Homo sapiens: one gene and its partners. The protein of the gene in region 1 purifies or fractionates together with the protein of each later gene. This does not show direct contact. Each region holds a gene or a part of one and is shown in the gene's direction. Other genes may lie near its edges. The genes, in order: PAICS, PPA1, RRM1, PRDX4, ABCC1, RPIA and PFAS.

Region 1 (4,747 bases):
AAACTAAGGGTCTTAAGAGGATGGGTATCTTCACAATTACTAGAGTCAGGGACAGATCTGGGACTCTATTCCAAGTCTCCTGCATGTTACCAGGCCACATTTCTGCTCCTATATAAAACAACAGACACTTCTCAAAAGAAGACATTTATGCAGCCAACAAACATGAAAAAAAGCTCATCATCACTGATCATTAGAGAAATGCAAACCTAAACCACAATGAGATACCATCTCACACCAGTCAGAATGGCTGTTTTAAAAAAGTCAGGAAACAACAGATGCTGGAGAGGCTATGAAGAAATAGGAACGCTTTTACACTGTTGGTGGGAATGCAAATTAGTTCAGCCATTGTGGAAGACAGTGTGGTGATTCCTCAAGGATCTAGAACCAGAAATACCATTTGACCCAGCAATCCCATTACTGGGTATATACCCAAAGGAATATAAATCATTCTACTGTAAAGACACGTGCACAGGAGCAGCACTATTTACAATAGCAAAGACATGGAACCAACCCAAATGCCCATCAGTGTTAGACTGGATAAAGAAAATGTGATATACACACACCATGGAATACTATGCAGCCATAAAAAAGAATGAGATTGGCCAGGCGCGGTGGCTCACACCTATAATCCCAGCACTTTGGGAGGCCAAGGCAGGTGGATGACAAGGTCAGGAGTTCAAGACCAGGCCAAGATAGTGAAACCTTGTCTCAAAAAAAAAAAAAAAAAAAAATTAGCCAGGCATGGTGGTGGGCACCTGTAATCCCAGCTTCTCGGAAGGCTGAGGCAGAGAATTGTTTGAACCCGGGAGGTGGAGGTTGCAGTGAGCCGAGATTGTGCCACTGCACTCCAACCTGGTTGACAGAGCGAGACTCTGTCTCCAAAAAAAAAAAAAGAAAGAAAAAGAATGAGATCATGTCCTTTGCAGGGAAATGGATTCAGCTAGAAGCCATCATCCTCAGCAAACTAACACAGGAACGGAAAACCAAACACCACATGTTCTCACTCATAAGTGGGAGTTGAACACTGAAAACACATGGACACAGGGAGGGGAACAACACACACCGGGGCCTGTTGCAGGGTGGGGAGCAAGGGGAGGGAGAGCATTAGGAGAAATACCTAATGCATATGGGGCTTAAAACCTAGATGACAGGTTGATGGGTGCAGCAAACTACCATGGCACATGTATACCTATGTAACAAACCTGCACATTCTGCACATGTATTTAAAATAAAAAATAACAGAAAACAAAATTAGAGCAAGACCCTTTCTATACTTAATATATAAAAATTCTCAAGGCAGTTAATTGTAGTTGCTAGTACAGAAAACACTTAACCTTAAGTGAAAATAAAAGTATACTTTACTATGGAACTTTGTTAGTTTAATTCAGGAAGTGAAAAGATGCATTTTCAGAAGTATCCCTTGCTATACAAACTCTTCATAATCCCTCCCCAAAACTCAGAAACCAAATAGTTTCAGGTAGCAAGAGATACTTGTTTTCTAAACTTTCTATCTTATTTTCTAGTCTTATCGGGACCTCAAAGAAGTAACTCCTGAAGGGCTCCAAATGGTAAAGAAAAACTTTGAGTGGGTTGCAGAGAGAGTAGAGGTAAACCTTCTATAGTAAAACTGTATGTATTATGTGTTTTTCTTCTAAGAAAATCTTGTTTCAAAAGAAAAAAAAATGGGAGAGTATAGTGCTTTTCTTTTCAGTGACTTTGTTTTTTGTTGTTGTTTTTTTTGAGACGGAGTCTTGCTCTGTCGCCCAGGCTGGAGTGCAGTGGCGCCATCTCAGCTCACTGCAAGCTCCGCCTCCCGGGTTCACGCCATTCTCCTAGCTCAGCCTCCCGAGTAGCTGGGACTACAGGCGCTGGCCACCACGCCCAGCTAATTTTTTGTATTTTTAGTAGAGACGGGGTTTCACCGTGTTAGCCAGGATGGTCTTGATCTCCTGACCTCGTGATCCCCCTGCCTCGGCCTCCCAAAGTGCCGGGATTACAGGCGTGAGCCACCACGCCCAGCTCTTCAGTGACTTTGAAAGTGAGGAACACTTTTAGGAAATGTATCAGCTGGGCTATCCTTACTAGGATACTGGAACTCCGTGCTGTTAAGCTGGCCAATACATACCTCCCAGATCCTGTTGGGGAAACCTGGAATCTGTCTCCTCCCTACCCCGTAGGAGAAACCTTATATTTCCTACTCACCTGCACTGCTAGTCAGAGTTCCATTAGCATGGGATGGATGGAACTCTGTGTGACTTTAAATATTCCTTTAAGTTTTATGGTATTACTATAATTCTGGGAGTTGAATGGGGTTTGTGATTATGCAAGGGTCATAATCACATTTGAGAACATTATTCTTATAGGAATATATATTTTGAGTTACAAGCAATTAACTTACAAAGACTTAGAACATGACTTCTGATTTGGCTAATCATACCTTAAAGCTTCCATTAAACAAAGTGCACTAAAGGTCTTAGGATGAAATATTTTGTATTATAATTTCCTGAAAATTAAAAGATTTTGAGTATCTTTACTGTTTATTTTAAATAATTTGTCTGATAAAAATTGAATTCTTTAGGTCTTGATGAAGACCACTTTCCTTTATATATTGAGATTTTTAAAAATAAATCCTGTCTTTTTGTTGTTTGTCTCTGTCTTAAATTTGATCTGTTAAGAAAGAAAATATTGGGCCCAGATATAATTTTACTACAAACTCTAGCTCATTTATTCATTTTTGTTTTTATGTTCTTTTCATATCCACGTATTTTTTCTTCAGTTGCTTTTGAAATCAGAAAGTCAGTGCAGGGTTGTAGTGTTGATGGGCTCTACTTCTGATCTTGGTCACTGTGAAAAAATCAAGAAGGCCTGTGGAAATTTTGGCATTCCATGTGAACTTCGAGTAACATCTGCGCATAAAGGACCAGATGAAACTCTGAGGATTAAAGCTGAGTATGAAGGTAAACCACAAGTAATATGGACATTTCAGGTATTTCTGATTTTGCTAAAAGTAATTACACACTTTAGACTAATAATGCTGAAAAAAGAGCTTTGTCAGTTTTCTAAGGGAAAAACACATGATATACTAGGCTTTCTTTTTTTTTGAGATGGAGTCTCACTCTGTCGCCCAGGCTGGAGTACAGTGGCGCCATCTCAGCTCACTGCAAGCTCCACCTCCCGGGTTCACACCATTCTCCTGCCTCAGCCTCCCAAGTAGCTGGGACTACAGGCGCCCACCACCATGCCCGGCTAATTTTTTGTATTTTTAATAGAGACGGGGTTTCACTGTGTTAGCCAGGATGGTCTTGACCTGATCTCATGATCCGCCTGCCTTGGCCTCCCAAAGTGCTGGGATTACAGGCATGAGCCACCACGCCTGGCCGCTAGGCTTTCTTAATACTCACCTCCAAAGAGCTTAAGGTATTCTAGAAGCTTAGAAAAGAAAGGAGCAGGGAGAAATAATTAAAAATGCAAGTATGAAAAGAAAACAAAGACTAGAATGATGAGAACCTCTGGCATCCTTACCTGGTAAGAAGCCCCTGGAGCATTGCTTCTAATATACTCCAATAGAAAATAGGCCCCCACAGTTACAGGAGGCGGGAGGTTAAAATAGCCGGTTCTCCCGGGAATCTTTAGTTGCCACCCTTTCCTGGGAGGCAGTCAGATAGGAAATTAAAGAACAGTTTCAGAATATAGTACATAAAAAATAATGGTATAGCAGTGATCTAAAATAATGGAGCCCTGGGTTTACAACCAAATGTTTCTCAACTGGAAAAAAATGTTGATTATTTCGTGTACAGGTTGTTGCTATGGAAGTGTAGTTACTAATTTTGGGGGAGTGGGAGGTTGGGGGAACTCAGACTCCTTTGATAGCTAATGAATTCTAGAACTCTTTTCAGAAAATTGCAAATACATACAATTTTGGATTCTAGGTTAACAAATCTCTGCTTTAGGAAACAGGAGGATAATTTATAAATTTATCAAAGAATGAATTGCTTAAGAGATTATGTTAAAAAATGTATCAAAGGGCCTTAAAATTTGGGGGACACTATATTAATTAAACTTTCCTTCAACTCTTGTTTGAAGACGTGTCCCTAAACCCCTAGTTTATATTAACTGGTTCTCCCTGCACCAGTTGAGGGACCACCCAGTCAAGAAAGACACCTGTTCAGATGGTGTCATTCTTCACTTTGGCCAGCCTATACAGCAATAGAAGAGGCCTATGAGCTATTCCCTCACTGACACCCTGCTATCCCCTTTATAATGTAGATCTCAAAAACAACCAAACCGATTCCAGCTACTTTATTACTTGACTTATAGTAAGTGGCAGAGTAACCTTATGTTTTGAATATATGTGTAATAATAGTATCTTTTATGTTTTTTCAGAGAAGACTATTCAAGGACCTCAAGTAATTAAAACATATAGGCCTTAAACCAAAAAAAAAAAAAAACCCTGTCTTTAAATCTGTTTTGAATGTTTAGCATAATTATACTCTTGTCATTTCCCTAGGGGATGGCATTCCTACTGTATTTGTGGCAGTGGCAGGCAGAAGTAATGGTTTGGGACCAGTGATGTCTGGGAACACTGCATATCCAGTTATCAGCTGTCCTCCCCTCACACCAGACTGGGGAGTTCAGGATGTGTGGTCTTCTCTTCGACTACCCAGTGGTAAGATACATTGAATTTTTAAAAACTGTTCATTACAAGCATTTAACAGATGCACAACAGTAGACAGAATAGCATAATAAA
Region 2 (4,747 bases), on another chromosome or scaffold:
CAATTATAATGGTAAGAAAATTTGAAAAGTCTGAAGTCTTTCTAATTAATTCATAAGCACCACCATACTTAACCTATAATGACAGAATTGTAAGCCCTTACCTTCAAACTGTTAAAGGATGGAGGAACAAAGCACTGGACAAGCATTATTTCTATGACTGCACTTGTAATTAACTAAGTAAACTTTCTCCTTCATTCCAGGAAAGAAAAAATCTGGTAGGTTCTTACTGTTTTTTTGGTCCTTTCCTTCCCCACATACCAGCACTCAGTTGGTATGTTTATTTATTTTAAAACATTTAATTGAGATATTCACATATCAAAGAGTCACCATTGTAAAATGTACAATTCAGTGGTTTTTAGTATATTCACTAAGTTGTACAACCATCACCACTCTCTAATTGCAGAACATTTCATCAGCCCAGAGGAAATCCTGTATCCATGGGCAATCACTCCCTGTCCCCCTTCCCTCAGTCCCTGATGACTGCAGATCTACTTTGTGCCTATGGATTTGCCTATGCTGTTATTTCATGTAAATGGCATCATATAGGTGGCCTCTGTGTCTGGTTTATTTCACTTAGCGAAGTAAGTGTCTTCAGGATTCATCCGTATTGTAGTATGTATCAGCACTTCATTCCCTTTTTTTTTTTTTTTGGTGGTAAATTTTACATAACATAAAATTCACCATTTTAATTAAAGTGTGAAATTCAGTGGCATTTCATTCATTCACAAGGTTGTGCAGCCATCACCACTAGTTCAAGTCATTCCCTATTCCCTCCTCCTCTCCAGGCCCTGGCAGCCACTAATCTGCTTTTTGTCTTTATAGCTTTGCCTATTCTACCTATTCTAGGTATCTCATATACATGGACTGGTACAATATATGGATCTTTGTTGTTGCTGTTTCTGGTTTCTTTCACTTAGTATAATGTTTTCTAGGTTTATCCATATTGCATATTGTGGCATCTGTCAGTACTCCTTTTTATGGTTGAATATTATTCCATTGTGTGGATATACTACATTTTGTTTATCCATTCATCAGTTGATGGACATTTGGGTTGTTTTGGCTGTGTAATGCTGCCATGAACATTCCTGTACAAGTTTTTGTGTGGACTTATGTTTTTATTATTGGGTACATACATAGGAGTTGCCAAAGCTAGAACACTTTGAGCAAGAAAATAAAGTAGTATTGTAATATAACCTGGAACATAAAATAAATCTCCATGAGTCTATACTGACAAATAAATGATTGAATAAATAGACAAATGAGGAAGAATAGACAAATCTCAAAGCAGAAGAATTCCAAATAATTTATGCAGATACTCCATTCTCAAGGAGGTCCTTAATTGTGAGTTGTGCCTGGTGACTTCCTTCCAAAGAGTACAGTGTGGGTAAGGGAGAGGAGAGGATGACTTTAGAGCAGAGAAACTTGACAAACACTGCCTCAGCCAGGTGATGGAGGTCAATGTCAGCAGTGATAAGAGTCACCTTGAGAGCATGTTCCCTCAAAATGATGTGATGTATATTTGCATCTGTGTTAATTCATTGAAGAAGGACTGGAAGAATGCCAATCCTTTAATGTTTCGTTTCAATTTTGAAAGGTGAGAGTGCATTCACACCATCTGTTCACTACTTGGTAGTACGGCTCTGTTCTGTTGGTCCGTGTGTGCATTTCCAACGTGCTTCTTATGCAAGAGAACTTGGCATGCTGTGGCCACAATTAGTGAAGCCAAGCCCATCACTCTGTCAGCACTCATTTACTAAGGCTTTATTTTCCTGCAGTTCAGGTTATTAGAACCCTGAAAACTTTCTCGGGGTGGCTGGTCCCATGGCGCAAGTAGTATGCAGCTTTCCCTAATGTCAACCTAAGGCAGTGTCTATTGTCCATCCTATAGCTTGCCCCTGTGCATCTCTTCCATTTGCTGTCCCTGAGTTGTATTTATATAACGAAATTTAAACTTCAGTGTTTTCCTGAGTTCTGTGAACCATTTTAGCAAATTAGGGGACCTGGGGAGAGGATTGTAGAAACCCCTAATTTATAGCTGATAGTCAAAAGTACAGGAGGCATCTGAAGTGGGGCAGTCTTGTGAGACTGAGCCCCTAACCTTTGAGATCTGATGCTAACTCCAGGTAGATAGTATCAGAATCACAGTGAATTACTGAGCACTCAGTTGGTGTCTGAATAATTGGAGAATTAGTTTCTGTTATTGGAAAACATCAACATTTGCATGTTGGATTTCTGGATTTCCAAATTATTTCTATATCAGGTGACACATTTCATGTAAATTATAAGTTCTTTGAAATTTACTAGTGCTTAAACATTTCCCAGTGCATTCTGTAAAGTTTCCATACTTTTAGTGATATTATGATAATAGAATGCATGCTATTCTTTATGCAGATTATAAATTGGATTGAAGCGGCCGGGCGCGGTGGCTCACGCCTGTAATCCCAGCACTTTGGGAGGCCGAGGCAGGCGAATCATGAGGTCAGGAGATCGAGACCGTCCTAGCTAACACGAAACCCCATCTCTACTAAAAATACAAAAAAATTAGCCAGGCATGGTGGTGGGCACCTGTAGTCCCAGTTACTCAGGAGGCTGAGGCAGGAGAATGGCGTGAACCCGGGAGGCAGAGCTTGCAGTGAGCCGAGATTGCGCCACTGCACTCCAGCCTGGGAGACAGAGCGAGACTCCTTCTCAAAAAAAAAAAATAAATTGGAGTGAAGCAATGTTATCTTATACAAATATAAATAAGCTTTTGTTATTGTTGAATGTATTTCTCTTCCTCATAATACTTTTCCTAACTGACTTTTTAGGATGTGTATCTCTGTTTGCTTGCATTGAGCAGGAGTTTGTTATTTGAAGTGCAGTTTGATAACATTGAGGCTAGCCATTGTTGATGGCTATACAGAAACTTAAAATTTTTAAAGCAGTGCACTTTTCTGTCAGCCAGAACTAAAGTATTGTTATGTACAGTGCCTGTACTATCCAGCAAAGTCTAGTCACATTTAATACGTAACCCATCAATGGATATCAATCTAATCTATTTTTCTTATCTTTTAGTATGTAATAGTGTTGTGATCCTCTGACATAGCCTCTGCCTCTGGACCAGGGATAGTACCTCAAGCCTGTAATCCCAGTGCTTTGGGAAGCCAAGGCAGGAGGATTGCTTGAGCCCAGGAGTTTGAGACCAGCCTGGGCAACATGACGAGACCCCATTTCTACAAAAAATTTAAAAATTAGCTGGGCGTGTGCATGCTTATAGTCCCAGCTACTCAGGAGGCTGAGGTGAGAGGATCGCTGAACTGTGGAGGTCAAGGCTGCAGTGAGCCTTGTTCGGGCCACTGCATTCCAGCGTGGGTGACAGAGCGAGACCTTGTCTCTGAAAAAAAAAAAAAGATAACCTCTGTCTTTTTCAGTATCTTGTACACTTCTCATAGGAATTATCTACATTTGCCAAACTGGTTGTTTCATTATGTAGCCACCAGCTGTTTGCCCTTACCTAACAGAGATTACTATTGTACTGATTGTTCTCTGTACTTAGTGTCAGAGCTATTCAGAGATACTAGATGATTTTCTTTCAATGTATATGTGTATGGCTTCTCTTCTCAACAAGGGGCTTCGCTCCAATGTTATCTTGAACTTCCGTGATAAGTCATTCCACAGCTCTTTCAAAATAAGTACTTGGAATTTTTGTTGAGTGTATAATTATTTGTGCATCTTGAAATCTGCTTATTCTCTTCTTTCTTTTTAAAAAAATCATTCTCACTGTCATCTTATGCTTCTTCTCTTCTTAGATATCAATGATGTCAAACGGCTGAAACCTGGCTACTTAGAAGCTACTGTGGACTGGTTTAGAAGGTATAAGGTTCCTGATGGAAAACCAGAAAATGAGTTTGCGTTTAATGCAGAATTTAAAGATAAGGTAATATGTCATTCAGAACTGTAGCTTTAGGCTCATTTGTATTGAGACTCATAATTTAACCATATTGTTACCATCTAAAGATTCACAAAACAGAAGTCTGGAAACATAACACAGTCTTGGTGTTTATTTATTCACTTTAATATTCTCTTCCATTTTTAGAATAAGGAAATGATTCAGAAGAGACAAAGTATCAGGCTTTGGGGAAATGTTGATAATAGGAAAATAATACCTTTTTATCATTGTAATGCAAACCTCTTCAAATTATAGGACTTTGCCATTGATATTATTAAAAGCACTCATGACCATTGGAAAGCATTAGTGACTAAGAAAACGAATGGAAAAGGAATCAGTTGGTAAGTGTAAACACTTTGCATGTTTAACACACAAAGCAGACCAGCTTGCAGAAAAGGTTTTAATAATCATAAGACACTGTACTGTTACTTTCACTTAGAAAAGAGATACAAGGCTGGGTGCGGTGGCTCACACCTGTCATTCCAGCACTTTGGGAAGCCAAGGTGGATGGATTGCTTGAGCCCAGGAGTTGAAGACCAGCCTGGACAACATGGAAAAACCCTGTCTCTACAAAAAGTACAAAAATTAGCTGGGCATGGTGGTACATACCTGTAGTCCTAGCTACCTGGGAGGCTGAGTTGGGAGGATCACCTGAGCCTGGGGAGGTTGAAGCTGCAGTGAGCCGTGATCGTACCACTGTACTCCAGCCTGGGCGACAGAGCGAGACTCGGTCTCAAAAAAAAAAAAAAAAGAGTACGAGAAACAGCCAATGTACAAAAATAATTCTCCCAGAAATCTTCTATTCTGTGTCAGGATAAT
Region 3 (4,747 bases), on another chromosome or scaffold:
CAAGGGACAGATGAAGGCACTGAAGAAAGTAACATTTTTAGTGTTAAAAAAAGAGAATGTGTCAGCCACACCCTTTTATGAATGTTAGAGTTTTCTGGTTTGTAGATATGACATGGGATAATCAGTTTTCTTAGCCTGCTTCTGATCAATATGACTACATGGAATTTTGTCCAGGAAAATCTCTGGAGCTTGTATTCCTCATAGAGGTTGATTAGAAGACAGCATTTGTTGGGATGTGGGGACATGGCAGCTAGTCATTTGTGGGTTTTTTTTTTTTTTGGTCATAGTTTTAACTTGCTGTAGAATAAATTTGAGTTGTGTATTCCTTAGATTCTTCAGTATGATATGTGGAATGTTACTCCTACAGACCTATGGGACTGGAAGGTTCTCAAGGAGAAGATTGCAAAGTAAGTGAAAAGATGTAAAGTAGCTTTGAAGGCAGAAGGGTTTAGGTTCACCTTCTGGATCTTCAGAAGTTAGATATGTCATTTTAACTTCTTAAACTCATTTATTACAAATGGGGCTAAAATGGCCTATCTCACAAAACTATTTTGGGAAAAAACTTCGTAAGATAATATATATAGTAACCTGGAAGTTGCTTGGCACAATGAAAGCATTTCAGTACCTGGTAGGAATTACTATTATTAGTTGATCTTATTTTAGGGACTTAACACACCTAGATTAGGTAATTTTCTTTCTCATTAAGGCTTTTTTCCAACTATGATTTTTTTTTTTAAATGTTTTTCATTCTTATTTATTTCCCAATTTAGTTACATCGGGCATATAAATGGCTTTTGTTTGAATTGATTGTCATAGGAATAATGGATTTTGGAAGAGTTTTTGGAGGGTAATGTGTTTAGACTATATGAAAAAAAAATTTTTAAATTGAGTTTTTGTAGGCCTTTCAAACTAATAAGCATAAGGGATTCGAAGGCAGACAGAATGTTTTGCAGAGTGAATAACAAAGCAAATTGTTTTTGTTTTCTATCGTGATGACTTTGTCATTTATGGGTTAATGCATATGCAAAGTGATTAATATTTGGAGAATGAAGCAGTAGCTTTAAAATGCTCTTTAAAAAAAATAACCGTTTGCCTTAAAATTGTTAAATTAAAATTGTTTTCCTACTCAAATAATACATGTTAGAAAATTTAGGAAAACATAGATTTGGAAAGAGAAAATGAAAATTATACTAATACTGCCTCCCCCAGAAAACCTGTGTGCATCTTAGTGTCTGTCATCCTTTAGGTTTTCTTCCAAGAGTACACATACATGTGTATTTACATGGAAATTCAACTTTTAAGAAAATGGACCTGTACTGTATTTATATATATATATATATATATTTTTTTTTTTTTTTTTTCCCCTCAAAATACTATGGCTTAGTTTTTTATATACATGACTTTTTTTCTAATTTCAAAATTAGTATATGAACACAAATTTATTATTAATAAAGCTCAAATACAGAAATAAAATAGAAAGTAAAAGCCCTTCTTCATACTTCTGCCAACCATTTGTCTCAGAAAACAAACCAAAAAAGTAACTTATTCTTTTTCCCAGAGATAAGACTTGTTAATGGTGTGTATTTTTCTAGATCTTTTTCAGTACATTTGCAGATAGGTACACATACACGGTTTTGTCATATAAATGTGATCAAACTTGATGTATTCTGGGCTGGGCACCATGACTCACGTCTGTAATCCCAGCACTTTGAGAGGCTGAGGTGGGTGGATCACTTGAGGTCAGGAGTTCAAGACCAGCTTGGGCAACATGGCGAAACTTAGTCTCTACTAAAAATACAAAAATTAGCTGGGCGTGGTGGTGCATGCCTGTAATCCCAGCTACTTGGGAGGCTGAGACATGAGAATCACTTGAACCTAGGAGGTGGAGATTACAGGGAGCCGAGATCATGCCACTGTACTCCAGCCTAGGTAACTGTGACTCTGTCTCAAAAAAAAGACTTGATGTATTCTGAGACTTGTTATTTAGTGATTTATTTTGGAGCTCTTTCTCTTTTAGTACCTGTAGGTCTACCTAATGTTTTTAATTATTATAGACAATTCCATAGTTTGAATATATCATATATGTAGGACTTTTCACAACATTTACCTGTCTGTAGACAGATGATGTTGCTATTTTACAGATGAGGAAGTAAAGACATGAAGATAGTTGGTGGTTTGCTTGATACCTCACTACAAAGTGACAGAGTAAGGTGGAGAACCACCCCCCAAAAAAAGTAAATAAAAAAATAATAATAACTAAAAAGTAGAGAACCCAGTTGTATTAGTCGATTCTCACACAGTTATAAAGAACTGCCTGAGACTGGGTAATTTAAAAAGGAAAGAGGTTTAATTGACTCACAGTTCCGCAGGGTTGGGGAGGCCTCAGGAAACTTACAATCATAGCAGAAGGGGAGGCAAACAGGTCCTTCTTTAATACGGCGGCAAGCAAAGTGCTGAGTAAAGGGAGAAAAGCCCCTTATAAAACCAGATCTTGTGAGAACTCACTATCTCATGAGAACAGCATGAGGGTAACCTCCTCTGTGATTAAATTACCTCCCGCCAGGTCCCTCCCGTAACGTGGGGATTATGGGAACTACAGTTCAAGATGAGATTTGGGTGGGGACACAGCCAAACTATATCCAGTTGTACAGACTCCGTCAGGATATGAGGCTGTATGCTAAGCACTGTATGAATCCATAGGTATAGAATGTAGGAAAGACAGGCTCTTTGTGTTTTAAAAACTTGAGACTAAGAAAACAAGTAGTTAAGGTATACGGAAAGGTACAGGTCAGAGAAAATGTTTGCAGAGTAGATATTTGTATTTGACATTTGTATTTGTGCCTGCCTGATGAGGAAAGATGTTTTAAAATTGCTATCAATTAGGCTGAGCTTTGAAGGTGAGCCAGGGGCAGTTGGGAGATTTCTCAGTGTGTCAGATAGTGTATTTTCTCTTATTAGTCAAAAGATGTTAACCTTCTTGCAGGAACTTATAATTGAAGAATATACTTTGAGCATAATTTCTTCCTCTTTACAGGATAATGGAGAATTGTGGTGATATTTCTCTGATTCTGAACACTTTCTCATCATTATTTTTCCAGAAGGGGCCTAGCACAATGATTTTATAGGCACTTGGAAAAGAGTGAGGGTTGGATGAGTGTAACCTAATACAGGTGGGGAGCGCTTCAACAGTGATTTGAATATTTCCCTACGCAAGATAGTGTATCAAGTGTTATGATTCCTGAGTGCCACAGTCCAAGTGGCATAAATCATGGTATGATAAGGATAGCCAACAATAAAAATTGTACTAATTCAGTTTAGGAGTCAGGCATTTAAGAGGAGAGTGGGCTATAATAGCACCCATACTGTGGAATTGCCTCCCTGTAGGAGTTTAATTTGAAAGTCAACGTGTGAGTTCAATGCATGTACGATGTTACATTTACATTTACTACATTTATCTACATTTACTACAGTGACTTAAAGTAGCTGCTTTCCTGGCAGATTGTAGCTTTGGGACTAGTACCTGATAATCTCCTTTTCTTTAGGTATGGTATAAGAAACAGTTTACTTATTGCCCCGATGCCTACAGCTTCCACTGCTCAGATCCTGGGGAATAATGAGTCCATTGAACCTTACACCAGCAACATCTATACTCGCAGAGTCTTGTCAGGAGAATTTCAGGTGAGCAGTTCACAACCAGCCTTACAGGGAGATCTTTCAAAAGCCTGATGTTGGGAGTAAATGCTCACTCATGTTTAATTTGCCCATTTTCTTAGTTTGGGTGCAAACTTTGATAAAGACAGTCATCTTCATCTCTAATATTATTATTTGTTATTAATATTTCAGCACAATAGGCATTTAATAAATAATCTGTTGAAAGAATGAGTGAATGAGGGTCGAGTATGAAAGTAAGTTGTTGATAGTTAAACATGATGTTTAACCATTATGTAATCATAGTGATATATTCTATAACTTCTCCCAGATGCTTAAGTTAGGATACTCAAAATGTATAAAGAAGTATCATTTAAGGCAGTGGTTCTCAGACTTGGTTACCAATTAGAATTTATGGTGGGTGAGACCAGTGGTTTTTTCTTTGTTTTTAAGGTTCCCAGGTAATTCTTATGTGTAGCTAGGGTTGAGAACCTCAATTTAAAAGACTATTTGTGAATTTCCAGATATCTTGAAGTAAAGTTCTGTAAAGTTCGAGAAGGATACGTTTCCAATTTTTTTAACCTAAGTATTTATAGATTTACCCATCTTAGGCGCTATTCTTTTCACTTTTGCAAACGCCATATGTTTCTTTTTTAATGAAAATATTTTTTCAGCTTTATTAAGGTATAATTGACAATAAAAATTGTGTATAAAACCAAGGTATACAGTGTAATGATTAGATATGTGTATATATTATATAACGATTACCACACCACAATGTTTTTGTTGTCGATACTGTTTTTGAGAAAATGTCTCACTTTGTCACCCAGGCTGGAGTGCAGTGGCATGATCTTGGCTCACTGCAGCCTCTGCCTCCTGGGTTCAAGCAATTCTCATGCCTCAGCCTCCTGAGTAGCTGGGATTACAGGCATGCTGCGCCACCATGCCTGGCTAATTATATTGTTTCTTGAATAACAGATGTCAAGATCTTAAAGGAATATAGCTTTCGTGTGGTGGCATTGATGTCTCGTCTTTATAAAAGATAGAATTTACCAAGCAATCTAGCATTAAATAACTCTTAAGTGATTTTAGTTTAAGC
Region 4 (4,247 bases), on another chromosome or scaffold:
CCATAAATGGTGGCTGTTACAGAGAAGTATAAGCCTTACTTTCTAGGACCCTTAGCCAAACTTAGAAGCAAGCATTGACTTCAGTGTTTGTAAGGGGTCTGAAAGTATAAGTGCTATCTGAATGTGTTAACAGAGCATGAAGGTGCATTAGTATCTAAGTGTGTTGGCTAAAATTACTGTACGCCCTTACAAGAGAGCAGCATGAACTGTTCAGTTTCCATTGGGTCACTTGAAACCTGTTCAAGGGAGTCTTCTTTCAAAGCCCTCTAGGAAAATGATCCCATGGTCTGGGATTTTACACTTCTGGCCTGACATATTTGTACATTCCCTCCTCATTTTGTGTAGCCTCATCTGCAGCAGGTCCTCCATGTGTATGTCAGAAGCTGGACAAACTAGTACATCTGGAAGACTGCCATTAGAGAAAGGAAAATCTAATTATTTGAAATGTAGGAAGTTGACAACTTGAAGCGGGACTATAGTGAAGTATCCAGGAGGGTTTAGTGCAGGGTAGAATTTAAGGGGTCTGTGAGCATGAATAGGGGAAAAAAGTATTTATTTTCACTAATCCCCATCTGAAATTTAGTGTTTCCTTCTATTATGAATGTCAGCAACAAACTACACTATCTTCAGCAGCACTTGCTTGTACCTTTCACCAATAGAATCACTTATTTTCTTGCTACATATGGTTATCGCAGGTATCCTGAAACACCATTTTCACTCATCATTATCTTACGTAGTTGTCAGATTACAACTAGATCTTGCAGTTTTGAAGTGTTATAGAGCACATGTATTATGATATCACCAATTTTTTTTAATATTTTTATAATTGCATTTAAATACAATTGGTTTCTTTTGTAATTCTATGTATTTTCCTTTTTGCATTCAATAACACTCTTTTAAGAAGTCTGTAAGCTTCACCAGACTGCCAAAGAGATCTAAAGGTAGCCCTGATTTTTAGTGATTTTCTAAAGATGTCCTTCTACCATTCCACCAACTTTCTCAGTGTTACAGAACATCATGTATTTTATTTTCTTAGTTTCCAAGCCAGCGCCCTACTGGGAAGGAACAGCTGTGATCGATGGAGAATTTAAGGAGCTGAAGTTAACTGATTATCGTGGGAAATACTTGGTTTTCTTCTTCTACCCACTTGATTTGTAAGTAATACATGTAAATAGCTAGTAAAATCTCAGTCTTTATCAATTATTTTTCAGGAGTATCAAACAAATTATTTTGTTCAGCTCTTGGTTTTTAAAAAGGCAAGCTGAAGTAAAGAAATGTATTTAAAAAGGTAACATCTACCATATATTTCAGAGTCATAACACACCGACCTCAATACTTATGTCTACATGATTATGTTATAATGGAATAATTAGAGGAAAGCTACAATATATTCATTAAGCTATACCTACTAAGGCAAGAAAATGGACTGATAATATATTAGAAAGCATTTAATAGCAAGACCTATGCCATAATTCTTTTTACTGTATCTCTCTTGATTAGAAAATTAATTCTGTAATCCCAGCACTTTGGGAGGCCAAGGCAGGTGGATTACAAGGTCAAGAGATCGAGACCATCCTGGCCAACATGGTAAAACCCCATCTCTACTAAAAATGCAAAAATTAGCTGGGCGTGGTGGTACGCGCCTGTAGTCCCAGCTACTCGGGAGGCTGAGGCAGGAGAATTGCTTGAACCCTGGAGGCGGAGGTTGCAGTAAGCTGAGATAGTGCCACTGCACTCCAGCCTGGCGACAGCGAGACTCCATCTCAAAAAGAAAAGAAAAAGAAAATTAAGCCATTTTCTCTAGTGATACCATGTAACTGTGGTTTTTCCATTTTTATTCTTTGCTGCATCTGTTGCTTTTCTGGGATTTGAACATTTTGCTGAAAATATTATATACTGCTTAAGGAATAAGGAATAACACCTGTGTATATGTTATGGTTATTGTGGGGTTTCTCGTCTTTTTTTAACTCTGTGACAGTGAGCGTTTTTGTATATGGTCAGAAAGTTGACTAAAAGTAAATACCCTTACAGCTTTATTCACGTTGAGGATTTAATTTTATTTTACAAAACACTATTTTGAGTGTTTTTCAAAATTCATGAAAGTGAGAAGAGACCAAAAAGAGTTATGTCAATTTTTATCTTTTATTCTCTTGGAACTTACTTTTTGGTTACAACAAATAACTAGAAGTTTCCTCCTCTATCTTTGCCACTGTGCCTTTTTCCATTAGGACTAATCTGGAACTACATAGATCAAATTTAAACTTGCAGGGAGGGTATACTTAAGCTCATTGCTATAGGTTGTTTCTAGGCCAGGGATTAACAAATTTTTTCTGCTGGATTTGGCCTATTGACCTATTTGCCAACCCCTGCTCTAAGCCACAAAGGAAGAATTCTCATGAAAATTATTACATTGAGACTAAAGTTATGAGTCTGCATAATATATAATCTTTTAAATTATAAGAACTTGCTTCTTTCTAATCAACTCATATTGTGACTTGATTTTTTTAAGTATAGCTTAATTTCTAATAGAAACCAGAAGTAGAAATTTCAGTAGACATAAAAAATGACAGGCCTTCTAAATTCATGTTGTTATAAAACCAGAAGGTTAACATGTATGTTAAATATATACGACTAACACCCTGAATTTGGAAGTTAGTCTAATGTAGCAGAAAAATATGTTCTGTGTTTCTCCATTGTTATTCATAACTCCATAATGGGTAAGAGATAGTTAATTGGAGCATGTTGTTAGCAATGGTCTTCTGGGACAAGGAGCTAAGATAGCCTCTTCCTGTTTTCATGTAATGCTGGACTGTGCCTGGTTAGAGAAGGAAGAATTCTGGGGCATTTGCCACAGTCTACAAGGAGGAAAGTTACAAACGTAACCCTTCAGTTTCCTGCCAAAACTTTTTCTGTCTTCACTAAGAAGTTGGTCAAATGTATCTCTAGGTAGCATTCCTTGAAATAAGAAGAAAGGCAGAGGCTGGGTGCAGTGGCTCACGCCTGTAATCCCAGCACTTTGGGAGGCCAACATGGGCGGATCACCTGAGGTCAGGAGTTCTAGACCAGCCTGGCCAACAAGGTGAAACCCCGTCTCTACTGAAAATACAAACAAAATTACCCGGGCGTGGTGGTGGGCGTTTGTAGTCCCAGTTACTCAGCAGGCTGAGGCAGGAGAATTGCTTGAACCCGGGAGGCGGAGGTTGCAGTGAGCTGAGATCGCGCCACTGCACTCCAGCCTGGGTGACAGAGTGAGACCCTGCCACAAAAAAAAAAAAAAAGGAAGGCTGAGGCTGACCATTCCTACCCTTTAGAAAATATTAAAAATACATTTTATAGCCCAGGTTTCCAGGGACATCATCCGAGATTAGAACTGTCTACTTGGACATGACAGTGCTGTACCTGAATACCTGAAACATGTTAAAATCCTGTATTGGTATCTGGTAGGAACTTGTGCCCTAACTAAGTCTATGTTTTTCAAACTTTCTTGACCATGTCTCACAGTAGGAAATACATTTTTCGTTGTCAGCCAGTACACAGGCACATATATATACGGTAACATTCCATCTGGATGCACCAGCACAGCCATGCTCCTTAAAATACTGAAAAACCCTCATATCATGTGGTAAATAGCCACTTCCCTTTCCTCACCAACTAGTTAGTCCTCCTGCCTGATCCCTTTCAGAAACCTCCAGAACTAAAGCCAGCTTTGAGTTAAGATTGTTAAATATTTTGAATATCATCACTGTTGAAGACAAACATATATATTTGTATATATAAATATGTGTTTCATAATTTACCCTTAGTATGTATGATAGAGTCTCCTGTTTTCTATTCGATTTCACTTTTTAAAAATATTTTTTAGAACTCAGTTAATTTAAGGAGTCCCTACCACGGTTTGAAAAAATGCCACCCTAGTAATATTCTGTAAACATGGCCTGACAACATGAGGGTATTAAGGTATAAAATCCCTGGCTGCACAGGACTGGTAGACAAGGTGGAAGAGGACCTTATCAAGAAAGGAGGGGTGGGGGTACTGGAAAACATTGCCTCCTCTCCAAAATACACATAGATGCATCTAATTCATAGGGTTGGTATAGGAATATTAAAAAAAAAATAGTGAAATGACATAAAATTTGTATAGATCCTTTGAAAGCTATAAAATACTATATAAATAAAAGGTATTATTAAATAAAAGTAATAAAATGAGGGGTGGCTATTGCTATAAGGGAGAAGGGAACATTGGTTGA
Region 5 (4,747 bases), on another chromosome or scaffold:
AAGATGGCCAGGCGCGGTGGCTCACATCTGTAATCCCAGCACTTTGGGATGCCAAAGTGGGTGGATCACCTGAGGTCAGGAGTTCAAGACCAGCCTGGTCAACATGGCAAAATCCCATCTATATTAAAAATACAAAAAAATTAGCCGGGCATGATGGTGGGTGCCTGTACTTGGGAGGCTGAGGCAGGAGAATCACTTGAACCCAAGAGGCAGAGGTTGCAGTGAGCCAAGACCGCACCATTGCACTCCAGCCTGGGCAACGAGAGCGAAACTCTATCTGAAGAAATAATAGAAGAGAAGAGAAGAATAAAATAAAAAGTAAAATAAAATAGTTCTGATGGTACATGATACCATACTAAACCTAGCTTTAAACAAATAAGATGACCAGGCACATTGGTTGACACCTGTAATCTCAGCACTTTGGGTGGCCAAGGCAGGCGGGTCACTTGAGCCCAGCAGTTCGAGACCAGCCTGGGCACTCTAGGGAGACCCTGTCTCTAAAAACAAAACAAAAAACCAAAAATTTGCCAGGTGTGGTGGCATGGGCCTGTAGTCGCAGCTACTCAGGCTGAGGCAGGAGGATCACTGGAACTTGGAAGGTTGAGGCGGCAGTGAGCTGTGATCATGTCATCCACACTCCAGCCTGGATGGCAGAGTAAGACCCCATCTCAAAAAAACAAAATGACAGAAAACATGATTTCTGTTTCTATTTTAAAGGGTAAAATAGTATATTTTAACACTTTGAAATGAAGAGTCTGGGCTTGGGAACGTTACAATGATGTTTACTCGTACTAGTTACGCACTCCCCTCCCAGATCTGTCTCGTAACAAGAGACTGTTATTTTCTACTTGTTTTTAGCCAAAAGGCCGAGAAACGATGGTTATTTTAAATCCCTAGTGTCTCTTACAGTTGATGTCTTCTTAGTATTTAGGAATTTCCAGGACATCTTTTTGTTGTTGTTAATGCACTGTGTGTGTGTGTGTGTGTGTGTGTGTGTGTGTGATTATAGGAGTGACCCACTACGCCCGGCTGTGTGTGTGTGTGTGTGTGTGTGTGTGTGTGTATGTGTGTGTGTGTGATTATAGGAGTGACCCACTACGCCCGGCCTATGTGTATGTATTTTAAAGGCTTCAATGAGAAAAAAGTTGGTTCTTAAAAAGGCAAGCTTCAGATTCCAGGGAAGATTGCCTCTGGAGAGCTCTGTTTTAATCCATGGGTTTGCCAGATTAATGAGGATTTACTGGCCTCGTGCCTTCGGCCCTCCCTACCCTGCGCCCATTGTGCATGTTTTGAAAAAGCAGTGCCAGGAAGGACTCTCTCTGGAATTACTGCGGAGTTACTTGAGTTAGCAAAGAATCCCCTTCCTCCCCCAAGAGCTGTAAGCCAAGTCTCTGTAGAGCTGACTCCATGCCTGTTTGTCTGCCTGTGTGTCTTGGCGCAGGTGGCTGGCCGTGCGGCTGGAGTGTGTGGGCAACTGCATCGTTCTGTTTGCTGCCCTGTTTGCGGTGATCTCCAGGCACAGCCTCAGTGCTGGCTTGGTGGGCCTCTCAGTGTCTTACTCATTGCAGGTAAGAGGGGATGCTCTTGGCTGGATTATTAAAGTCTGTTAATGGGGGAGCCAGTTGTCCTTGGCTTTGGATTCCAGCTCCAACAGGAATGGGGGAGAGGAACTTGAGAGGTACGGAGTTTGAGGAGCAGGTACAGTGCCACAGTGCCTGGTGACCAACTAGAGCAGGAGACGGATTTGACATGTGGCCAGGATTTTCCCCATCAGTCACACAGATTCCTTAGTGGCCCAAGAGGATACTTCCAGGTACGAGGGGAATGCTTTTAAAGCTATGAATTTCCCTCTAAGAACTGCTTTAGCTGCATCTCACAAATGATGATACATTGTGTTTTCATATTGTCACCTGGCTAAAAATATTTTCCAGTTTCTTATTATGTGGCCCATGAGTTATTTTGGAAATGTGTGTGCTTAGGAGATGGCAATGTGGCAGGCCTGGGTGATGGCTATACCTGGGGTTGCTAATTTCGGTACCTTTCTTACCTGAATGTTTCATAACTCATAACCTTTTATTTTTATTTATTTATTTTTTTTGGAGACGGAATCTCACTCTGTCACCCAGGCTGGAATGCAGTGGTGGGATCTCGGCTCACTGCAACCTCTGCCTCCTGGGTTCAAGTGATTCTTCTGCCTCAGCCTCCCAAATAGCTGGGTTTACAGGTGTGCGTCACCATGCCTGGCTAATTTTTATATTTTTAGTAGTGACTGATGGGGTTTCGCCACATCGGCCAGGCTGGTCTCAAACCCCTGACCTCAGGTGATCTGACCGCCTCAGCCTCCCATAATTCATACTTGTTGAAAATAATTTGTTTCCTATTATCTCAGTGGAAAAAAAGAAAAAGGAAAGTCAAGTACGCCCGCTTACTCTAGAAATGCCACGTGACTCTTCCACTCACAGGTCACCACGTACTTGAACTGGCTGGTTCGGATGTCATCTGAAATGGAAACCAACATCGTGGCCGTGGAGAGGCTCAAGGAGTATTCAGAGACTGAGAAGGAGGTAGGCAAGGGCCCCTGGCTGGACCTCTTGGTCTTTGGTGTAGCTTTACCCCAAGGAGATCTCTGGACCCTATCCTGTGCACCTCTGCCTCTGAGCTGGATACCTCACCAGGTAGAAGTGCATCTTAACGCTTGTCCAGTCTTTTTGCAGCACTTATTTAGAGCCCGGTTTTAGGGTGAAAATAGTTTACCGGCTTTACCCAAGATCTGGGGTATCCATATACGAGACTGTGGGATGCTGTCAGGGCATTCAGAAGGTATTCACATTGTGAAGAAGTTTCCCCCTCTATTTCTCTTTCATAACTTCTGATGGTATCACAGAGAAAGTCTTAGTCTGGGGCTAGCAGGTCTTTAACACCTTAGCAATTGAGATGATCTCCCTTCAACAGACAGATAAACAGCAGCCCTCACACTTGGAGTCTTCAACAGGACGGATTCTGTCTATCAGAAATAACCTTCTGTTATTTGTTATGAATTTGGTTTTTTTGTGTGTGTGATGGAGTCTCACTGTCACCCAGGCTGGAGTGCAGTGGCACAATCTCGGCTCACTGCAACCTCCTCCTCCCAGGTTCAAGTAATTCTCCTGCCTCAGCCTCCCAAATAGTTGGGATTACAGGTGCCTGTCATCATGCCTGGCTAATTTTTGTATTTTTAGTAGAGATGGGGGTTTCACTAAGTTGGCCAGTCTGGTCTCAAACTCTTGACCTCAGGTGATCCGCCTGCCTCAGCCTCCCAAAGTGCTGGGATTACAGGCGTGAGCCACTGCGCCTGGCCTGTTATGTATTTGTATAGGGGACTCCTGTTACGGAAAATAATACTACTTTTCCTTTTGTGATTGTAATAAATTTTCCTCTTAAGTAAGTTGAGAAATTAAGTCTAAGTGACTTGATTAAGCATATTAAAACAACAAGAGAATGAGTACATGCATACTACACGAATGATGTAGCTGGGAACTGACCAAAGTTTGGGAAACCCTGCCGTTATTGAACCCCAGTCCCCTTTTTATAGATGGAGAAAAAGGGAACCTGGGGAGGGACAACAGCTGATCCAAGGTCCCACGTGGCTTGGTAGAACAGCTGGGACTAGGACCCGTGCCTCCAGTCTTTGATGTTGCGTTGCCCTTAATAACTGCCTTCTTAGGCCCTGAACAGCAGCACAAGTAGGAACAGCAGTGATAATAGATAATCACAATAATGCCTGGCGACACCCCCACCCTACATTAATGATAACAGGGACACACATAGTGCCTTGTAGAATGTCAGGCCCAGACTTAAACGTTTAATATAGAGTAATGCACTCAGTCTTTACCCCGCTCTATGACTGATTTTTGAGACACGGTCTCACTCTTGCCCGGGTTGGAGTGTAGTGCGATCTCATTCGCTGCCTCCCAGGCTCAAGTGATTCTCCTACCTCTGCCTCCTGAGTGTCTGGGACCACGGGCATATGCCATCACACCGGACTGATTTTTGTATTTTTAGTAGAGACGGGATTTTGCCCAGACTCATCTTGATCTCCTGAGCTCTAGTGATCTGCCTGCCTTGGCCTCCCAAAGTGCTGGGATTACAAGCGGGAGCCACCATGCCCAGCCCAGCCCTATAATTTAGATGCTACTATTACCCCCATTTTACAGGTGAGGAAACTGAGACAAAAAGCTGAAGTTACTTGCCCAAGATCACATGGCTGGTAAATGGCAGACCTAGGCGTTGAGCCTGTGCCTCCTCAGAGACCCTATCCAGTGCCATGGGAGTCATGCTACCCGGCCTCCTGAGGAGAGATGCCCCTTGGGAGTGAGACCAAGGCCTCTGTAAGGTCTGTCCTCCTGAGGAATTCACAGAGGTGACCTCGGCCCACTCCTTTAACATTCTGACTGGGTGAACCAGGTCCCATGTCACGGGTGAGCATTGTAAGAATGGCGTGAGTGCCCCCGTGAGGAACCAAGGGTGTATTACACCGGCGGCTTCCAACTTGACACTGAATTTAATTCACTTACAAGGTATTTCATTAGGTTTTTTTTTTTTTTTTTTTTAGATGGAATTTGGCTTTTTTTTTGCCCAGGCTGGAATGCAGTGGCACGATCTCAGCTCACTGCAACCTCCACCTCCTGGGTTCAAGTGATTCTCCTGCCTCAGCCTCCCAATTAGCTGGGATTACAAGTACCCACCACCCCGCCCAGCTAACTTATTT
Region 6 (3,500 bases), on another chromosome or scaffold:
GTTCCCAGGGGGATTATGGCTGCCTCTTCTGCGTCATACAGGCTGCCAGGGAAGTAGGAGAAAGCCGGCAGTGACAGACCCCCACCCAGCTGCCACACAGCCAGCAAGGCCAGTTTCACTCCCGCCATGCCCCACCATGGTGAGCAGGGCTGAGATCTTGCCCCAGACTACAGGCCTCCCTACTGAGAAAGCAAGCAGGCCTCTCAGGCCTCGCCCCTCCCTGCCTGCCTGCACCTTCGGCTGTGGGTTCTTCATTTGTATCTGCACTTCCCATTTGTCCCCCACCGGATTCTGCTCAGGAAAATTTGTGCTCAGTTGAAATTATTACGAAGTTCAGCTAGAAGCTTCCTTCATCCTGTGGCCCCTCCCCAGTTCTGCTGGCTGCCTTTTTTTCCCGAAGGACCCCTGTGAGATAAAGCCAGGGATGGCTTCCCTGGGCTCAAGCTGGGGACTGGAAGTGTCTACAGGGCTCTTCCTGCTGCTGCTTCTACTTTTATAGTTTGCTCAGCTCTCTAAATCCATTTCAGCTCTAGGTAAGATTAAATCCGTCTCCTGTGATCTGGATTTTTCAGGTTCCCCGGTGGGGATGTATGTTCAGAGGCAGACTTTTCCCCCTCTCACACTTTGGGAACTCACAGTTTTTTGGCTGTCTTATGGAGTTTGCAGCAGCAAGCCACTTCTTTCAAAGGGTCTGTGAATTCTTTTGGTTTTCCTGGTATGTTCCTGTGGTGGTTCTTGGAGCAAAAGTTCACAATGTGTGTCTCCACACACTGTTCTGTCTGTCCAAGTGGGTGCTGCACATTAATCCTGTCTTCTATTGCCATTTTCCTGCAAGTTTTCATTGTATTTATCCTTTTGAATTTGTGTAGTTTAAAATTATGAGTTAAACAGTGGCAAGTCCTCTTTGCCACTTTTCCAACCAACTAGTTACCCTATCTGGAGGCAGCCAGTGTTACCAAAATTGTGTGGCCTTTGAGATAGACTTTCATAAACACACAAATTGCAACTCCTCCCGCCCCACCCCTTTTTACACTAGCGGTAGCCTGCTTTATACATGTTCTGTTTCCTGCCTTGCCTGTCTTGGAGATTATTACACATTGGCTTATAAAAGAGCTTCCTTGTTCCTTTTTTTTCTGAATACCTGCATGTATTCCACTTTACCTATGTAACATTATGACTTAACTGGATCACCACTAGTGGTCATTTATGTTTGCAGATTTTTGCTAGCAGGGAATCACTGGATGAAAGGATTAATGTGTCTGTGATTTTTGTTAGATGGTTTCAGATTGCCGTCTGTAGCTTGTATTCACTTAGCCTTCTACCAACAGTGTGTGCAGGTATCTGTTTCCCTGCATACCTGGTCCATTATACCTTTTCTCTTACAGTTAAAGTGTTATGTCATTGAAGTATGTGTGAGTATATGTAAATATTCTTGGTAAAGGTTGTGTGTAGTTGTTAATTTTCACTGCTGAATCATATTCCATCATCTGTATGTGTGTGAAAAAAAGTTTATATCTATTCTACTCTTTTAGTTTTTTCTCTTTCTTTCTTTTTTTGGAGACAGGATCTTGCTCTGTCACCCAGGCTGTAGTACAGTGGCATAATCATGGCTCACTGCAACCTCTGCTCCTGGGCTCAGGCGATTCTCCCACCTCAGCCTCCTGAGTAGCTGGGACTGCAGGCATGTGCCAGCATGCTTGGCTAATTTTTGTATTTTTTGTAGAGCTGCCATCTCTATGTTATGTTTCCCAGGCTGGTCTCGAACTCCTGGGCTCCATCAGCTCCATCTGGAGCTCCATTGAACTCCTGGGCTTCATTCCCAAAGTGCTGGGATTATAGGCATGAGCCACCATACCCAGCCTCTATTCTACTCTTGATGGACATTTGGGTATTATCAGTTTTTAGCTAATAGGAAAAGTGCCACTATCAACATCTTACACATGTCTTTTGATGACCAAATGTATGCCTAACAGTTGTATATCTAGGAGTAGAATTGCTGAGTGGTTAGGTGTGAATCCATCAGCTTGGAAGATGAACATTTCCAAAGTGCTTTTGCCAGCTCAGCTTTCACCATCAATGCGTATGAGTGTCTTTGCATCCCAGCAGAATTTCATTACACTGACTTCAGTGTGTGTGTAGTGATATCTTGTAATATTAATTTGTATTTCCTTTCAGTGAATGATTTTGAGCATCTTTTAAAATGTTTATTGGCCATTTTGGGTAGCTTCTTTTGTGAGGTACTTCTTCAAGTCTTTTGCCCATTTTTCTATGGGGATTCTGTCTTTTTCTTGATGATTTATAAATTGTTTATATTTTTGATATGAGTCCTTTGTCAGGTATATGCTTTGCAAATATCTCCTCCCATTCCGAGGAAATCTTTCAAGGCTGGTGGTATGATTGAAAATAACTGGTAGTGGGGCTCCTTGGCTGGAGTAGTCATGGAGGGTCTCTAGAGGATGACTTGCCATCTGATATGTCTGAAGGACAGAGCTGAGCCAGCCCCTTGAAGTGCTTGACAATGACTGGCTCAGGCAGAGGGAACAGCATGAACAAAGGCCTCAGGGCAGGACAAAGCTTAGCATGTTTGGGTACAGAAAGAAGGCCAAAGTGGGAGGGGAGAAAGAGGTGGCAAGAAGAAATTAAGATAATCAGAATCTCTTTTCATTGCTCTGTGGGAGAAAAAGGCTTTAGATTTGTCATTCGTCCAATGCTGTGTATGACAGTTGCTTCTAGTGACCCTGCAGTCTTTGAGTCTCTTTTTGCTTTGGGAGGCTGAAACAATGTTTCTTTCTGTCCTTTGTCCTGCAGGTGTGGTGGACACAGGCCTATTCATCAACATGGCTGAGAGAGTCTACTTTGGGATGCAGGATGGCTCAGTGAACATGAGGGAGAAGCCTTTCTGTTGACCCTGCAAGGAGCAGAGTGTGTTCACCTTGAGTCTCCAGCCCACAGCCAAGGTGGACGTACCTCTCCAGGAGCCTTTGCCTTAATGTATCTCTGCCTGGACAACTTGTGGTGGGGGGTGGGGGGAAGAGTGGGAGGGGGAGTTAAATCCAGTCTTATGAAGTATTGTTATTAAATGTCTTTTTAAAAAGAGAAATATAAACATATATTTTTACTATTAAAATATTCAGTTTTTTAAATGAAGTAGAACTTGAGTTCATGTTTTATATGAAATATTTACCAAAAAAAAAAAATGAGGTAAACTGTATTTAAAACCTTTGACTTGAGTCTGCTGGTAAAGCTTCTGAATATTGAGTTTGCTGAGAAATAAAAATCAAAACTTCTTTAAGCTGGTAAAGTGAGGGGCCCACCAGCAGTGATCTCCTGATGCCTTACTGGAAACTTTGTTTACTTGTCTGCTACCCTCTGATTTGTTTTTAGTTAGTTTTTATTGTGAGCACACATAGTACCTAGTTACATCTTAAGATCAGGTTTATAAAACTGTGGAGTGGAGCGGTATGGTATGGAATGACTTGGAATGTAAGCTGTCAGGGAGA
Region 7 (3,596 bases), on another chromosome or scaffold:
TTAAATATATATATATATATATATGTATTTTTTGAGACGGAGTTTCACCCTTGTTGCCCAGGCTGGAGTGCAATGGCGCAATCTTGGCTCACCGCAACCTCCACCTCCTGGGTTCAAGCGATTTTCCTGCCTCATCCTCCCAAGTAGCTGGGATTACAGGCATGCAAAAATACAAAAATTAGCCAGGCGTGCTGGCGGGCGCCTGTAATCCCAGCTACTTGGGAGGCTGAGGCAGGAGAATCGCTTGAACCCAGGAGGCAGAGGTTGTAGTGAGCCGAGATCATGCCACTGTACTCCAGCCTGGGTGACAGAATGAGATTCCATCTCAAAAAAAAAAAAAAAAGAAAGAAGGAAAGGAAGGAAGGAGGGAGGGAGGGAAAAGGAAGAAAGAAAAAAGAAAAGAAACAGAGCAGTTATGCCCCTTCATTCCCAATTCCCTTTTTTGAGGTCCTCCATGTCTCACCCTGACTTCCCTATTCCCTGCTAGGGTGGGCAGCTGCTGTGACCTTTCATCCCAGGGCTGGGGCTGAGCTGAGGCGCTTCCGGAAGCGGCCAGACACCTTCAGCCTGGGCGTGTGTAATGGCTGTCAACTGCTGGCTCTGCTCGGCTGGGTGGGAGGCGACCCCAATGAGGATGCTGCAGAGATGGGCCCTGACTCCCAGCCAGCCCGGCCAGGCCTTCTGCTACGCCACAACCTGTCTGGGCGCTACGAGTCTCGCTGGGCCAGCGTGCGTGTGGGGCCTGGGCCAGCCCTGATGCTGCGAGGGATGGAGGGCGCCGTGCTGCCCGTGTGGAGTGCGCACGGGGAAGGTCAGGCCCAAGGAAGGCTGGGGGAGGGCCCGAGGGTTGGGGGCAAGGGTGGGCATGAAGGACCTTGGCTCTCACTTCCCTCCTCCTTCCATCCCAGGTTACGTAGCATTTTCTTCTCCGGAACTCCAAGCTCAGATTGAGGCCAGGGGCTTGGCTCCACTGCACTGGGCTGATGATGACGGGAACCCCACAGAGCAGTACCCTCTGAATCCCAATGGGTCCCCAGGGGGCGTGGCTGGCATCTGCTCCTGTGATGGCCGCCACCTGGCTGTCATGCCTCACCCTGAGCGGGCCGTTAGGCCTTGGCAGTGGGCATGGCGACCCCCTCCATTTGATACTCTGACCACCTCCCCCTGGCTCCAGCTCTTTATCAATGCCCGAAACTGGACCCTGGAAGGGAGCTGCTGACTGGCCACAGGGGCTCACCTGGGCCCCATGGCTTTTCACCTAAGTGGGTCCTGCCCCCTCCCCCATGACCTTCAGGAGCACCCCATATTATTTCCAAAAATATCTTGGACAGACAAGGACCAAAATGCCAAAATCTCAGCGGACTCGATAATCTGCCTGCTGATGTTCCTTCTGTGGCTGTGTCTATTTTCAGTTCTGCTCTAACATGGCATGCCCTTTCTCAGCCCAGGAAACAGCATGTGGTTCAGAGAAAAGAGCGACAAGGAAAAGTTAGGACTCCTGAGGTCCGAACAGGGGCTTCTGTTGCCCACTTCACAACACCCAGTGATCACCGGTGTGCAATTGCCTCCTTGGCTCTGAGGGATGTTTTGCGCTCCCTTTTCTCATCATTGGGGTTAGCGGGTGCAGACAAATTCAGCAATAGTATGCAGATCAGCCCCTCACCACCTCATTGTTCTCATCTGGAACTGAAACTTTCTGGATTTCTCTTGAAGTGCTACACTGCACTGAATGTAAGGAATTGTTGCTTGTGGAAGTTTCTCAGCGTTTCTGGCTGTCTTAGGGCTGGCCTCAGAACCCAGCATTCCTGTTATTTGCTTCTAAATTAGCAGCTCTCTTTTTTTTTTTTTTTTTGAGGCAGTCTCACTCTGTCACCCAGGCTGGAGTACAATGGCGTGATCTCGGCCCACTGCAACCTCTGCCTCCTGGGTTCAAGCAATTTTCCTGCCTCAGCCTCCCGAGTAGCTGGGAGTACAGGCACACACCACCACACCCAGCTAATTTTTGTATTTTTAGTAGAGATAGGGTTTCACCATGTCTCCCAGGCTGGTCTCAAACTCCTAACCTCAAGTGATTCGCCTGCCTCGGCCTCCCAAAGTGCTGGGATTACAGGTGGGAGCCACTACAGCTGGCCCAGCAGCTCTGTTTCTGATAGAGGTGGTTGGGGCTCTCATCCCTAGATCCTAACCCTTTAGTATGCTGGAATTCTACTCTTCACTTACTGCATTGACTGTTGTTGATTAGTTATTATTGCAAAGCACTGTCACCGGCCTCAGGGAGTTTATGTGTAATAGAATTAAAAATAATAGCTGTGTATAACACTTAGCTCAAGCCACGCATGTGTGAGGCATTTGGTATGTATCTGAATTAATTCTCACTAAAATTCAGCAAAGGACTTGATAGCCCCTCCCCGCCTTTTCAATAAAGGATGAATGAAGGTTGACTGCATTGCCTGGGGTCCACAGATGGTGAGGGGGGCTGGGCGCACCCATACTACATCTGCTTCCCGCCATCCTGCAGTCTTACTTCCTGGAGGCAGTGTGTTGAGACTTTGTGCTGGCAGCTGTCTGTTGCTTCCTTTGCTCACAGGACTGTGGATAGAGGTCCCTTCCTCATGACTGTTCTGTTGTACACCTCAAGTCAGTTGGCTCCCTAGAATGTTCAACATCTTGATAAAAGGAGTTTGCCTGAGAATGGAGACTATAATCCCAGATCCCTGAGGGCTAGGAGAGCTGGGTGGGGGCGCTGAGCACTTCTGTGTGCTCCTGGTAGAGTAGCCACCCTGAGAAAAAACTGATAATAATGAAACAATGTTAAATGATGGCTATGGGGAAAACAACTATTTCAGAGATTTTTCTCATTGCTTTGCAAAGCGACCTACCCTGAGCAGTATGGGACTCCTCCGGATCATTTTTGACATTTGAATGTTCTTTCCTGACCCTTGGAAAGGATATATGTATGTCTTTCAAATTTATAGTATCGAACATACAATTTGGGGGCTGGTACCAAGGGTTAGATATTAAGTTTATTAAGTGCTTGATGCAAAAGTCAAAGGATGGCATGGGAGGTAACCTGGTTGGCTGTGATAAGTAAACTCGTGGATTTTGAAGGGGGAGCAGTTTCTGGTTTGGGTCGCAGTGGCCAAGTAAGACCCACCCTCCTCAGACACTATCAAGACCAAGTCCACTGGCTTTTCATCCGTGTTTTCATCCAGTAACCAAATAACCCTGTCCTTGCTGACCCCCACCCAGCTCCATTCCCACTCACCCACTCCCAAGGGCCCTCTGGTGAACCTTCCAGGCTAGCTCTCTGCTCCCTCCTTGCCTTCATGGAAAACCAGCTATCCTCTGAGAGCCACTTCTGCAGCCCCTCCAAGTGGTGGCTTTTCTTCTCAAACCTCAACCTCACATATCTCATCTTCCCCAGGCTGGGGAGTCGGGGTCCTCGTACCACTGCCAGACTGTTCACCCAGTTCAAAGAAAACCCTGCCCGTTGCAGGCTCATGCCATTCTACTACATCCCTTTCATCCAGTTCTTTGTGTTCTACTGACTTCCCCAGCGCTTCCTTTGGGAGAAGGTGCCAATTCTTCAATAGTTG

The links.
Region 2: the proteins of PAICS (region 1) and PPA1 fractionate together in Homo sapiens (co-fractionation; one large-scale study listed by BioGRID). This does not show direct contact.
Region 3: the proteins of PAICS (region 1) and RRM1 fractionate together in Homo sapiens (co-fractionation; one large-scale study listed by BioGRID). This does not show direct contact.
Region 4: the proteins of PAICS (region 1) and PRDX4 fractionate together in Homo sapiens (co-fractionation; one large-scale study listed by BioGRID). This does not show direct contact.
Region 5: the proteins of PAICS (region 1) and ABCC1 fractionate together in Homo sapiens (co-fractionation; one large-scale study listed by BioGRID). This does not show direct contact.
Region 6: the proteins of PAICS (region 1) and RPIA fractionate together in Homo sapiens (co-fractionation; one large-scale study listed by BioGRID). This does not show direct contact.
Region 7: the proteins of PAICS (region 1) and PFAS fractionate together in Homo sapiens (co-fractionation; one large-scale study listed by BioGRID). This does not show direct contact.

What each region holds. Positions count from the first base shown.
Region 1 is NC_000004.12:56,449,096-56,453,842, forward strand, and holds part of PAICS (bifunctional phosphoribosylaminoimidazole carboxylase/phosphoribosylaminoimidazole succinocarboxamide synthetase), read left to right. Parts: intron 1-1,523; coding exon 1,524-1,607; intron 1,608-2,776; coding exon 2,777-2,957; intron 2,958-4,507; coding exon 4,508-4,666; intron 4,667-4,747. UniProt on the Homo sapiens protein: Bifunctional phosphoribosylaminoimidazole carboxylase and phosphoribosylaminoimidazole succinocarboxamide synthetase catalyzing two reactions of the de novo purine biosynthetic pathway.
Region 2 is NC_000010.11:70,208,727-70,213,473, reverse strand, and holds part of PPA1 (inorganic pyrophosphatase), read left to right. Parts: coding exon 1-11; intron 12-3,788; coding exon 3,789-3,916; intron 3,917-4,183; coding exon 4,184-4,269; intron 4,270-4,747.
Region 3 is NC_000011.10:4,128,744-4,133,490, forward strand, and holds part of RRM1 (ribonucleoside-diphosphate reductase large subunit), read left to right. Parts: intron 1-330; coding exon 331-407; intron 408-3,542; coding exon 3,543-3,678; intron 3,679-4,747. UniProt on the Homo sapiens protein: Provides the precursors necessary for DNA synthesis. Catalyzes the biosynthesis of deoxyribonucleotides from the corresponding ribonucleotides.
Region 4 is NC_000023.11:23,670,493-23,674,739, forward strand, and holds part of PRDX4 (peroxiredoxin-4 precursor), read left to right. Parts: intron 1-1,036; coding exon 1,037-1,154; intron 1,155-4,247. UniProt on the Homo sapiens protein: Thiol-specific peroxidase that catalyzes the reduction of hydrogen peroxide and organic hydroperoxides to water and alcohols, respectively.
Region 5 is NC_000016.10:16,123,348-16,128,094, forward strand, and holds part of ABCC1 (multidrug resistance-associated protein 1), read left to right. Parts: intron 1-1,441; coding exon 1,442-1,568; intron 1,569-2,462; coding exon 2,463-2,564; intron 2,565-4,747.
Region 6 is NC_000002.12:88,747,173-88,750,672, forward strand, and holds part of RPIA (ribose-5-phosphate isomerase), read left to right. Parts: intron 1-2,808; coding exon 2,809-2,906; 3' UTR 2,907-3,500. UniProt on the Homo sapiens protein: Catalyzes the reversible conversion of ribose-5-phosphate to ribulose 5-phosphate and participates in the first step of the non-oxidative branch of the pentose phosphate pathway.
Region 7 is NC_000017.11:8,268,046-8,271,641, forward strand, and holds the end of PFAS (phosphoribosylformylglycinamidine synthase), read left to right. Parts: intron 1-487; coding exon 488-811; intron 812-908; coding exon 909-1,219; 3' UTR 1,220-2,441; downstream 2,442-3,596. UniProt on the Homo sapiens protein: Phosphoribosylformylglycinamidine synthase involved in the purines biosynthetic pathway. Catalyzes the ATP-dependent conversion of formylglycinamide ribonucleotide (FGAR) and glutamine to yield formylglycinamidine ribonucleotide (FGAM) and glutamate.